Regions from separate parts of the Homo sapiens genome. Here region 1 is linked to region 2. The links come from fine-mapping of genetic effects on gene expression. A gene starts in region 2. The other region holds a variant in brackets. All regions are shown on one strand. Distances are between the middles of the regions. Region 1 holds the start of TBXA2R (thromboxane A2 receptor). Region 2 holds the start of GIPC3 (GIPC PDZ domain containing family member 3).

Evidence for each region. PIP is the estimated chance that this variant, and not a neighbour inherited with it, causes the effect.
Region 1: its variant is the best candidate, but not a certain one, in a credible set for the expression of GIPC3 in blood mononuclear cells (TOPMed, PIP 0.76).

What each region holds. Positions count from the first base shown.
Region 1 is chr19:3,605,337-3,610,697 of GRCh38, reverse strand. It overlaps TBXA2R (thromboxane A2 receptor), which reads left to right and starts at 3,823. Exons shown (of 3, transcript NM_001060.6): 1 at 3,823-4,168. CACTIN-AS1 (CACTIN antisense RNA 1) reads right to left here and starts at 3,451. Exons shown (of 4, transcript NR_038865.1): 1 at 3,289-3,451. It overlaps CACTIN (cactin, spliceosome C complex subunit), which reads left to right. Exons shown (of 10, transcript NM_001080543.2): 10 at 1-53. RefSeq lists enhancers at 3,125-3,698, 4,272-4,846 and silencers at 3,685-3,764, 3,875-3,924. The variant C/T (reference allele first, on the strand shown) is at 3,015.
Region 2 is chr19:3,582,264-3,587,624 of GRCh38, reverse strand. GIPC3 (GIPC PDZ domain containing family member 3) reads right to left here and starts at 2,147. Exons shown (of 6, transcript NM_133261.3): 1 at 1,803-2,147; 2 at 945-1,130; 3 at 631-811. The coding sequence starts at 2,027.

The sequences.
Region 1 (5,361 bases), 23 kb before region 2:
GGCCTATTGGCAAGATCGCATGTTTTTTTAATAAACGTTGTATTTTAGAATAATCTTAGGTTTGCAGAAATGCAGAGAGTGTAACGTGTCCGACGCCCCACACCCGCTGCCCTAGTTGCTGCTGGCATTTGTGACACAGCGCATTTGTCCCAAGGGAAGAGCCTGGGAAACAACACGGCACCCAACTGGGGCCCGGTGGTCCCTTGGGAGCTGTGTTAGTGCCCGGATCTGTCTTTGCCCCCCACCCCTCTGCCTTGCCTCCCACAGTGGGGGTGACAGTCCATTTCCCAGACGACAGGAGGGAGGGTACAAGGGTGGACACAGCTGCTGGCCTGGGCCCAGGCTCTCATGGGGGCAGCGCTTGGCCATGCCTGGGGGCATTCGTGGTGGTCCCACCTTGGGGCTGCTCCTGGCGTGGAGTGAGTGGAGGCCAGGGATGCTGCCCAATGTGCTTCAGTGCCCAGGATGAGCCTCCCCAAATGTCCTCACTGCAGTAGGCAGAGGTGCAAGGCAGATCCTGCACTCCCCTGGGGCACTGGTCACCTCCCAGCCCCCACCTCTAACAGGATCCCGGAAGTCTGTGGCACAGGGCTTGGGAACTGGCCAGGGAAGTGCATCTGATCAGCGTCCGCTCTCCACACCGCAGACCCTGGCCCACCCTGACCAGCCTACTCCAGAATCCCAAATCGCATTGCAGCACACACAACACTGCCATCCCCAGCCCAGCCTTCAGCAGACATCACAAGTTGATGGCAGATGGCCAGAGCCATCTTAGAATCCTCTGGGCAGCCTCTTGCCTGGGTTCCTGGCCAGCTCCACCGCCGATCAGGACAGGCTGCTGGGGCAGGGCTGAGTCCGGGCTGGACTCGGGGGGCACTTTTTATTTTTTTGAGACAGGCTGGAGTGCAGTGGGCGTGATCACAGCTTTCTACATCCTCAACACCAGAAGGCACTTTTGAGCCCAGAGTGGTGTTTGGGACAGGCCGGGTTCTGTAGTCACAGCCCAGGTTGTGTGTGCGTGGCTGGCGCAGCCCAGCCTGTACTGGGCCTAACCCAGACCTCCCACCAGCTCTATGTGACAGTATTTACTTCCATTTGGCTGCTCGGGAAACTGAGGCTCACAAAAGCCCACGTTGTTGAGCCCAGAAAGTGGCAGGGCCAGTATTAGAAGCTGGGTTTCTCTACCCTGGAGAATCCCAATCCCAGACCACCACCCCGTCCCTGCCTCAGTTTCCCCACCTGCCCCTGCAGAGATTCCCCCAGCCCCAGCATCCTGCTTCCTCCTCCTCACGTTCCTTTTGCACCCCAAGGGAGATGGCTGTCCTCCAACTGGCAAGACACATGGTTTGCCAGGGGCCCCAGTCTGGAGGGAGCAGAGCTGGGGCCCTGGGACCCCTGAAGGGTCACGGGCACTGAGCCTGGGAAGACGGGCTGCTGGCCGAGAAGGGTGACGGCTGCCTTGCAGAGGACAGGGCAGCAGGTGTGCCCAGGGCAGGGGGCACACAGGGCTCAGGCCAAGCTAAGGAGCCAGATCCTAGGGGAGCTGGGCACCAGGGAGCTACGGAGGGCGCGTGAGCTGGGGAGGGCCTCCGAGCTGGGTGTCGAGACCCTGCAGGCAGACTGGAGGTGGGGGCCAGGGGTAGGCTCTGCACACCACCCCCCCATCTACCCCATGACTCTCCACCATGGCCCGAGGTCCACCTGGTGTCCTGGAAGCTGCCCCCGCCCCCACCCAGCTTCCTGACTTTGGCTGTGTCCAGAGCTAAGAATAGACGCTCCCTGCCCGGCCCCCGCCGGAAACCGCAGCCACGGGGGTACATCCTGAGCCTGGCCTCTGTTCCCACCATCTGCCCCCCAGCCCCTCACAACTCCTCCCACCAGAGCCTCCTGTGCTCCCATTGAACCCGAAGTGCTGGCGGGGGGTGGGGGGCGGGGGGCGGGCCAAGACCGGGAGACCAGCAACCAGCCCCAGATGACAGGGAAGCCCAGTGCTCATGTTCCAATCCCACACATGGGCGTGGCATTGTTCCCCCTTTGTGCCTCAGTTTCCCCATCTCTAAAATTTAAGAGTATCTTTACCCCCTGCCTTGCAGAGATGTGGTGAGGCTTAAGCTAAATGCAAGTGTCCTTCTCTGAACTCTGCCCAGGCTGTTTCCCAGAAGAGTCATTGTCCTTGTTATCTCAGGGCCGAGGACAGAGGAAGTGGGGACAGGACAGCCTTCCTCCGTCTCTCACTGCCCCCTCATCTGGAGCCCCAGCCCCACATCCTCCTCCCCCAACATCTGCCCTCCTTGCAGTTAGTGTAGCAAGGGCCTCATGCTCTCTCTTGCCTCCAAAGCTTTATACATGCAATTCCTGTCACTGCCACGTAGCCCAGACCTGGGGAGCTCCTATTCATCCTACAAAACCCCACTTCCCATGCCCTCTCCTCACAAGATGTCTTCCTAGCTCACCTCTGGGCTTCCCTAGGCCCTGTCTCTTCCTTTGGCCCAGCCCTGACCCCAGGGGGCTGGAACAGCCTGTGTCCAGTTCATTCTCCAGCCTAGGGCATCCTGAAGGGCAGGCCTGGTTTCAGGTCTCACTTGGAGCTCATAATTGTCCCACTGTATAAGCTGAACACAGAGAGGGGTTGGGGAGAGTAAGACTTGGAGATTAGGTCGGCTTCACGGGAAAGCAGCCTTGGAGCCAGGGTTTTGCCACATCCATAGGAGTTGGATAGCCTCCTTGCCAGGAAAGAGAGAAGTTGTGTTAAATGGCTGGTGACTTAATGGGATAGAGCTTTGGGAGGGAGGTTGGGTGTGGCCGAAGGCCAGGAGGAGGAAGGATAGTGGGCGGGGTAGCCGGGGAAGGGGCTTCCGGACTGGGCTGACGAGAGGGCCGGGCCAGGCTGGGAATACCCCTCACTCACAGCCTGGACTAGCAGCCCTCCCGGGCCCAGGGGACGGGGTGGGGTGCAGTCAGGGCAAGGTCAGCTTGTCCGGTCCCACTCCAGGTCCCTAACTCAAGGTTCTGTC[C/T]GGCTCGGGTGTACAAACAAGGCCAAGGAAGCCCAAGGTCCCCCCTCTGCAAAGAGACGGTCCCAGTCCCTGCGTCCGGCACCTTCTCAGCCATTCCTGTTGGGCTCCATCCCTCCTTCCCCAGCCCGAGCTGGGGGGTGGCCAGGAAAGAGTGCCCATCCCCCACTGCAGCCTCCCGGCTCCAGACTGTTCCTCCTCTGGCTCCAAAGCCACCTCCGAGCCTCCTCAAGAGACCCTCCCATGCGATGCCATCACCCCAGCCCTCCCGGCTCACCTGCTCTGGGACCACCTTTCTCAGTCTGGCTGTGTCGTCTGGTGCACCCCCCATCCCTCTGTCCTCCCACCCCACCCCTGGAAGGGGCCTCAAATATGTCCTGTATGTATTAAGCAGGGCATACTACTACTGTGTGCCGCGTTCCAGCGCACCCAGTGAATTTGGAGCCCTGGAGTCTGGGCGACCCCCGGGAGCCGATCCGCCTGGACCTGCCCCGCCCCCTCCAGGCCTTGGGTGCTGCCCAGATGGTGAATAATGCGGGCCTGGCGGCGGGAGCGCCGGGAAGAGGCCTGGCAGGGCGCTGGGCGGCTGGAGGGGCTGAGGCTCCCGAGGAAGCGCCCCTGCCACCCCTACGCGGGCCATTGCATCCCTGCCACCGGTGGCCTGGGGGTCCCAAGGGCGCCGCCTTCCCCAGAAGGCTGTAGGGTGTCCCGGCGTGCGGGGGGCACCCACTGACTCCAAGTCAGCCAGGCCCGGGCCCGAGGGGCGTGGCCAGCGCAGGGTGGGCGGGGCTGATGAGAGACAGCGGGAGACAGAGACTGGACGGAGAGAGCGAGCCGCGGGCTGCCAGCGGCCCCCACCCGTCCCAGCTCGGCTTAGCCCCCGCGGACCCCTCCAGGCCGCGACCCCAGGGCGTCCTGTGCCGCCACGCCCTCCATCTGTGTGGGTCCTCTGCTGGGCCCGCCCCTGGTCACAGCCAGACTGACTCAGTTTCCCTGGGAGGTCCCGCTCGAGCCCGTCCTTCCCCTCCCTCTGCCCGCCCCCAGCCCTCGCCCCACCCTCGGCGCCCGCACATCTGCCTGCTCAGCTCCAGACGGCGCCCGGACCCCCGGGCGCGGGATCCAGCCAGGTGGGAGCCCCGCAGATGAGGTCTCTGAAGGTGAGGTCGCCCCGCTGGCTTAGGGCGGGATGCACTGCTCTGGTGTGAGCCCGGGCTGCTGGGCGCATCCGGCGCTGGCCCTGCCCTGCTGTGGGTGTGTCGCAAAGCCCGCGGTGACAGCGGCCAGGTGCCAGGTGTCCCCTGTGTGGCCCGGCGGGTGGCATGGTGCCCTGAGGCCTGCCCTGGGCGCCCAGGCGGCTGGGTCTGGGTGCGGCCCAGGCTGATTCTGTCCGGGGGGCTCTCTGGTCTCTGTGGGGCCACATGGCTGTGAATGGGGGTCCCAGACTCAGGGGGCTGCAGCCGGGGAGGGGGCCCAGGCCCTGGGTGTGGCAGGGATCGAGTGTGGTTGTGCGGCTGTGTGTGTGATCTTGTCTCTGGGAGTGAACCATGCATGGCCCTGGTTGTGTGTCTGTGTCTGTGCGTGTGTGGTGGTTTTGTGTGTGTGACCGTGTGTTTGTTTCTGCCGAGAGTCTGTGACTGTTAAATACTGTGTGTTCTTCTGTGTGTCTTTCTGTGTCTGTCTGTATCTATGTACCTGTTGTGTTTCTGCCTGTGTGTCTGTGTTTTTCTGTCTGTGTCTGTCACATTTCTGCCTGTGTGCCTATGTGTGTATCTGTGTGTGTCTATGTCTGTCGTGTTTCTGCCTGTATGTGTCTGTGTGTGGCTGTGTGTCTGTTGTGTTTCTGCTTGTGTGTGTCTATCTGCGTGTGTCTGTGTGTCTGTTGTGTTTCTGCTTGTGTGTGTCTGTGTCTGTCATGTTTCCATCTGTGTGTGTCTATCTGTATGTGTCTATGTATTTGCCATGTTTCTGTATGTGTGTCTGTGCATGCCTGTGCGTCTGTCTACTGTGTTTCTGTCTGTCACATTTCTGCCTGTGTGTCTGTCATGTTTCTGTCTGGGTGTGTCTGTGGTGTTTCTGTGTGTGTCTATCTGTGTGTGTCTGTGTATCTGCCATGTTTCTGTATGTGTGTCTGTGCATGTCTGTGCATCTGTCTGCTGTGTTTCTGTCACATTTCTGCCTGTGTGTCTGTCATGTTTCTATCTGTGTGTGTGTCTGTGTGTCTGCCATGTTTCTGTGTGTGTGTCTGTGCACGTCTGTGCGTCTGCCTGCTGTGTTTCTGTCTGTCACATTTCTGCCTGTGTGTCTGCTGTGTTTCTGCCTGTGTGTGTCTGGCTGTGTCTGTGTGTCTCGA
Region 2 (5,361 bases):
TACAATCCACCATGACCTCAAAGCACTGCTTTAAAAGTTCCCAGGCTGCGCGCGGTGGCTCACGCCTATAATCCTAGCATTTTGGGAGACTGAGGCGGGTGGAGCACTTGAGGTCAGAAGTTCGAGACCAGACTGGTCAAGATGGTGAAACCCCGTCTCTACTAAAAATACAAAAATTAGCCAGGCGCAATGGTGGGTGCCTGTAGTCCCAGCTACTCGGGAGGCTGAGGCAGGAGAATCGCTTGAACCCGGGAGGTGGAGATTGCAGTGAGCTGAGATCGCGCCATTGCACTCCAGCCCAGGCAACAGAGTGAGACTCCGTCTCAAAAACAAACAAACAAACAAACAAACAAAAACAAGTCTCCCAGCCTGGCTCCAAAGTGGTTCTGGACGCGTCCTCCTCCAACTCCACTTTACCCAGTCTCTCCCCCACCCCTCCCCCACAGGCTGACTCCATAACAATCTATTAATAGAAACTACCTACGAGTTTCTGATACCCTGCCAGGAGCTCCTTGGCACGCAGCGGGTGCACCTAGAACCTTCCAGCCCGTCCCATCCCCGACCCTCCTCCACCCCAGGCATCCGTAGAACGCACTTCGGGAAGAGCTCCCGCCAGCCCACCCGCCTCACCGAAGGCCCTCTTGGGCTGCACCAGGCGCAGGGTGAAGGGCTGGGACTTGGGCAGCTCCCGGAGCATCTTGGCCACCTCGTAGTGGCGGCAGCCCACAATGGAGTGGTCGTTGATGGCTTCGATGCTGTCACCCACGCACACTGCCTCGATCCGGTTGATGATACTGCCTTCCTTGATTCTCTGCAGGGATCCAGCGTCGCTGGCAGGGCAACCCCAGCCACCCGCCTCCAATCCGCAGAACCCACGTCGACCCAGAGTGGGGGGGGCAGTTGCTGGACCCCAGGAAGCCACCCGCCCACCCCCTCCCGGGCACCTTGATGAAGGCGTAGCCAGCCCCGTTGTCCGTGATGGTCAGCCCCAGAGCATCCTCTGTCTTAGTGACCTCCACCTCCTTGGTCTCGCCTCGCACGTGGGCAAAGATGAAGTCCTCCAGGCCTATCTGACCCCCCAGGAGCTTCTGCATGTCCACTTTGTGGCTGTTGAGGGTGCAGAATAAAATCTTCCCGGGGGAGAAGGAGCCTAGAGTTAGCCAGGGCATGCATCCCCCCACGCAGCCACCCTGTCTGCGCAGGCCCCTGCCCCCAGCGACCAGGATCCCAGCCCATGGGAAAGGGCAGGGCGTGGGACCCCCAGAACAGAGAGAGGAGGGAGAAGGAGACTTCCAGCAGGTGGAGACCCCTCTCCATACCCCGGGACCTCCAGCCCCCAGACCTCCAGGTTTAATCTGCTGGCGCCCCCTGGGGGCTGCAAACCAAACGAACCCGGATTGGAAAAACGCCCAGGAACCCCCCAACCCCACGGCGGCCTCAAACTTCCCATCCCTAAGGGGGCCATCTGGAACCCCAGACCCCAGCTACGCCCAGGAAGCACAGAGGCGCTTCCCCGAGGGCTGGGGTCCGCTCCAAGCTAGGTCTGCGCAGAGGATTTTCTGGAATATCTAGGGGTCCGCTAGTCCTAAGACCTGCCCATCTTTTGCGCAGAGCGTGCAAAGGGGGCCCCTGGGAGTGTGGCACCCCGGGATCTGAGGGCTGGGTCTCTGAGATCCGGCGATTAGGCGGCCACCCCGACGTCTGGGATCCGGGGATCTGGGGTCTCCCGTCCAGGGTCCAAGCTCCCTACCCCTCACCCCATCAGGCGGGTGGTCTTGGGCGCCGGTGTCCGGGCTCCTTACCTCGGTGGGCGCGATCCCGAAGGCTTCGGCGATCTTGGCGTACAGCTCGCGGACGTTGGTGAAGCCCTCGATCTTGCCCGTGGGGCTCCCGTGCGCCAGCTGCGTGCGGAAGACGAGGCGCGGGCGGGCGCGGGGCGCGGCCGGGGGCTCCGAGGGCGCGGGCGGGGGCGCAGACGCGCGCGGGGTCTCGGTCCCCCGGGCCTCCCGGGCCGCTGCTCCCTCCATGGCGGGAGAAGTTCGGCCACCCACCCGGGCCCTCGCCGCCGCCGCCGGATCCGCCGCTTCCTGCAGCCTCCCCTCCCCCGGCCCAGGGCGCGACAGCCGAGACGCCCGGGTAAGGGGATCTGGGAACCCGAGCCTCCCGGGAAGGCGACACCGCGGGGTGCGCAGGGGTGGGTCGGGCCCCAGGTGTCCGGGCCCTGCCAGGGCCAGCTGTGCCCTCCCCGGGGATACCCGCAGTCCGGGGGGGCCTGAGCTCAGGACCCTGGAAGAACAGGGACCACAAATAAGGACAGGGACAGGCCTGGAGCGGTGGCTCACGTCTGTAATTCCAGCACTTTGGGAGGCCGAAGCGGGCAGATGACCTGAGGTCAGGAGTTCAAGACTAGCCTGGCCAACATGGTGAAACCCCGTCTCTACCAAAAATACAAAAATCAGCCGGACGTGGTGGCGGGCGCCTGTAATCCCAGCTACTCGGGAGGCTGAGATCTCTTGAACCCGGGAGGCGGAGGTGGCAGTGAGCTGAGATGGCGCCATTACACTCCAGCCTGGGCAACAAAGCGAGACTCCGTCGCAAAAAAAAAAAAAAAAAAAAAAAAAAGGACAGGGACAGCTGAGGGTGCTGGAGCACTCACCCTCTGCTAGGCGAGGTCATTGTTTTATTTTATTTTATTATTTTTATTTATTTATTTATTTTGAGCTGGAGTCTCGCTCTGTCACCCAGTTTGGAGTTCAGTGGCACGATCTCAGCTCACTGCAACCTCTGCCCACCAGGTTCAAGCAATTCTCATGCCTCGGCCTCCCCAGTAGCTGGGATTACAGGCATATACCACCATGCCCGGCTAATTTTTTTGTATTTTTAATAGAGATGAGGTTTCACCATGTTGGCCAGGATGGTCTTGAACTCCTGACCTCAGGAATCCACCCACCTTAGCCTCCAAAAAAGCTGGGATTACAGGCATGAGCCACCACGCCCAGCCTTTGGTTTGTTTGTTTGATTTTGGAGACGGAGTCTAGCTCTGTCGCCCAGGCTGGAGTGCAATGGCGTGATCTCGGCTCACTGCAACCTCCACCTCCTGGGTTCAAGCGATTCTCCTGCCTCAGCCCCCCTAGTAGCTGGGATTATAGGCGCACACCACCATGCCTGGCTAATTTTTGTATTTTTTAGTAGAGACAGGGTTTCACCATGTTGGTCAGGCTTGTCTCGAACCCCTGACCTCAGGTGATCCACCTGCCTTGGCCTCCCAAAGTGCTGGGATTACAGGCGTGAACCACCGCACCCGGCCGCATTCAGTTTTTTAAAATTTAATTTAGAAACATGATTAATTTTTTGTACAGTTGGGATCTCACTGTGTTGCCCAGGCTGGTCTCAAACTCAAGACCAGGAGGTTCAGGCCATCCTTCAGCCTTGGCCTCCCAAAGTGCTAGGATTACAGATGTGAGCCACTGTGCCCAGCTTCTCTTCAGCATTTAAAGCTACCATCTGACATATCAGATATTTTATTTTATTTTATTTTTTGAGACGGAGTCTCTCTCTCTTGCCAAGGCTGGAGTGCAGTGGCACGATCTCGGCTCACTGCAACCTCTGCCTCCCGGGTTCAAGCGATTCTTCTGCCTCAGCCTCCTGATTAGTTGGGATTACAGGCACCTGCCACCATGCCCAGCTAATTTTTTTTGTATTTTTAGTAGAGACGGGGGTTTCACCATGTTGGCCAGGATGGTCTCGAACTCCTGACCTCAAGGAATCCTCCCGCCTCAGCCTCCCAAAATGTTGGGATTACAGGCTTGAGCCCCAGCCCCCTGCTGATATTTCATTTCATCTTTTGTCCTGTTTGTCCCCAGGACTGGAGGAATGTCAGCTCCAGGAGGGTGGGGGCTGTTCCCCTGCTCTGTCCCCATGCCCAGTGTCCAGGGCACAGTGCCTGGCATACAGCAGGTGCCCAGTGATCTTTGGTGAGGAATGAACGGATGTCCAGGTCACAGATGAAGGAGGAGACCCCAGGCACCAGGAGGCGTTGGTAAAAATCCGCTGGAGTGCAATGTCAGAAACACCTACGTATCCATCAGATTCCTACCCAGGAATGTCGGCTCAATAAACAGCCATCCTGCCTGCAGTGGCGGGCCCTACAGCAGAGCCAGTCACAGCCTCCGCCCAGGAGGAGCCTCACAAACTGAACATGGGGAGAGAAAAGAAAGTGGCAGGAGGGTTTGGACGAGGTAAGAAATTTTATGTAAGGCCGGGCACGGTGGCTCATGCCTGTAATCCAGCACTTTGGGAGGCTGAGGCAGGCGGATTGCTTGAGGTCAGGAGTTCGAGACCAGCCTGGACAACGCAGTGAAACCCCATCTCTACTAAAAACACAAAAATTAGCCAGGTGTGGTGGCGCACACCTGTAGTCCCAGTTACTCGGGAGGCTGAGGCAGAATTGCTCCAACCTGGGAGGCGGAGGTTGCAGTGAGCCAAGATCATGCCACTGCACTCCAGCCTGGACAACAGAGTGAGACTGTCTCAAAAAAAAAAAAAAAAAAAAAAGGCCAGGTCTGGTGGCTCACCCCTGTAATCCCAGCACTTGGGGAGGCCAAGGAAGGCAGATCACAAGGTCAAGAGATCAAGACCATCCTGGCCAACATGATGAAACCCCATCTCTACTAAAAATACAAAAATTAAATTAGCTGAGTATGGTGTCATGTGCCTGTAATCCCAGCTACTTGGAAGGCTGAGACAGGAGAATCACTTGAACCCGGGAGGCGGAGGTTGCAGTGAGCCAAGATCGCGCCACTGCACTCCAGCCTGGGACAGACAAGAGCGTGACTCCGCCTCAAAAAAAAAAAAAGAGAGAGAGAGAGGGATTCACCTGCCTCAGTCTCCCAAGTAGCTGGAATTACAGGCATGCACCACCATCCCTGGCTATTTTTGTATTTTTAGTAGAGACCGGGTTTCACTATGTTGGCCAGGCTGGTCTGGAACTCTTGGTCTCAAGTGATCTGCCTGCCTCGGTCTCCCAAACTGCTGGAATTACAGGCGTGAGCCACTGTGCCCAGCCCACACAGCTTTTTGAATGTACCAAAACCTACTGAATTGTATACTGAAATTTTTTTTAATAAAAAACTGCTGCAAAATGCTATTTTCCAGGCCTGCCTAGAAATGAGAAACTCTAAATTTAAGGTGGTGGTACCTGTGCCAGGACAGGGTGAAACTGGGGTGGGGAGTGAGGGGGGTTGGCAGTATCAGGTTGTCTGACTCGCCCATGATGGCTGTAACAAAGCACCAAAAACTGGGTGTGGTGAGGTGGCTCTTGACTGTGATCCCAGCACTTTGGGAGGCCGAGGCGGGAGGATC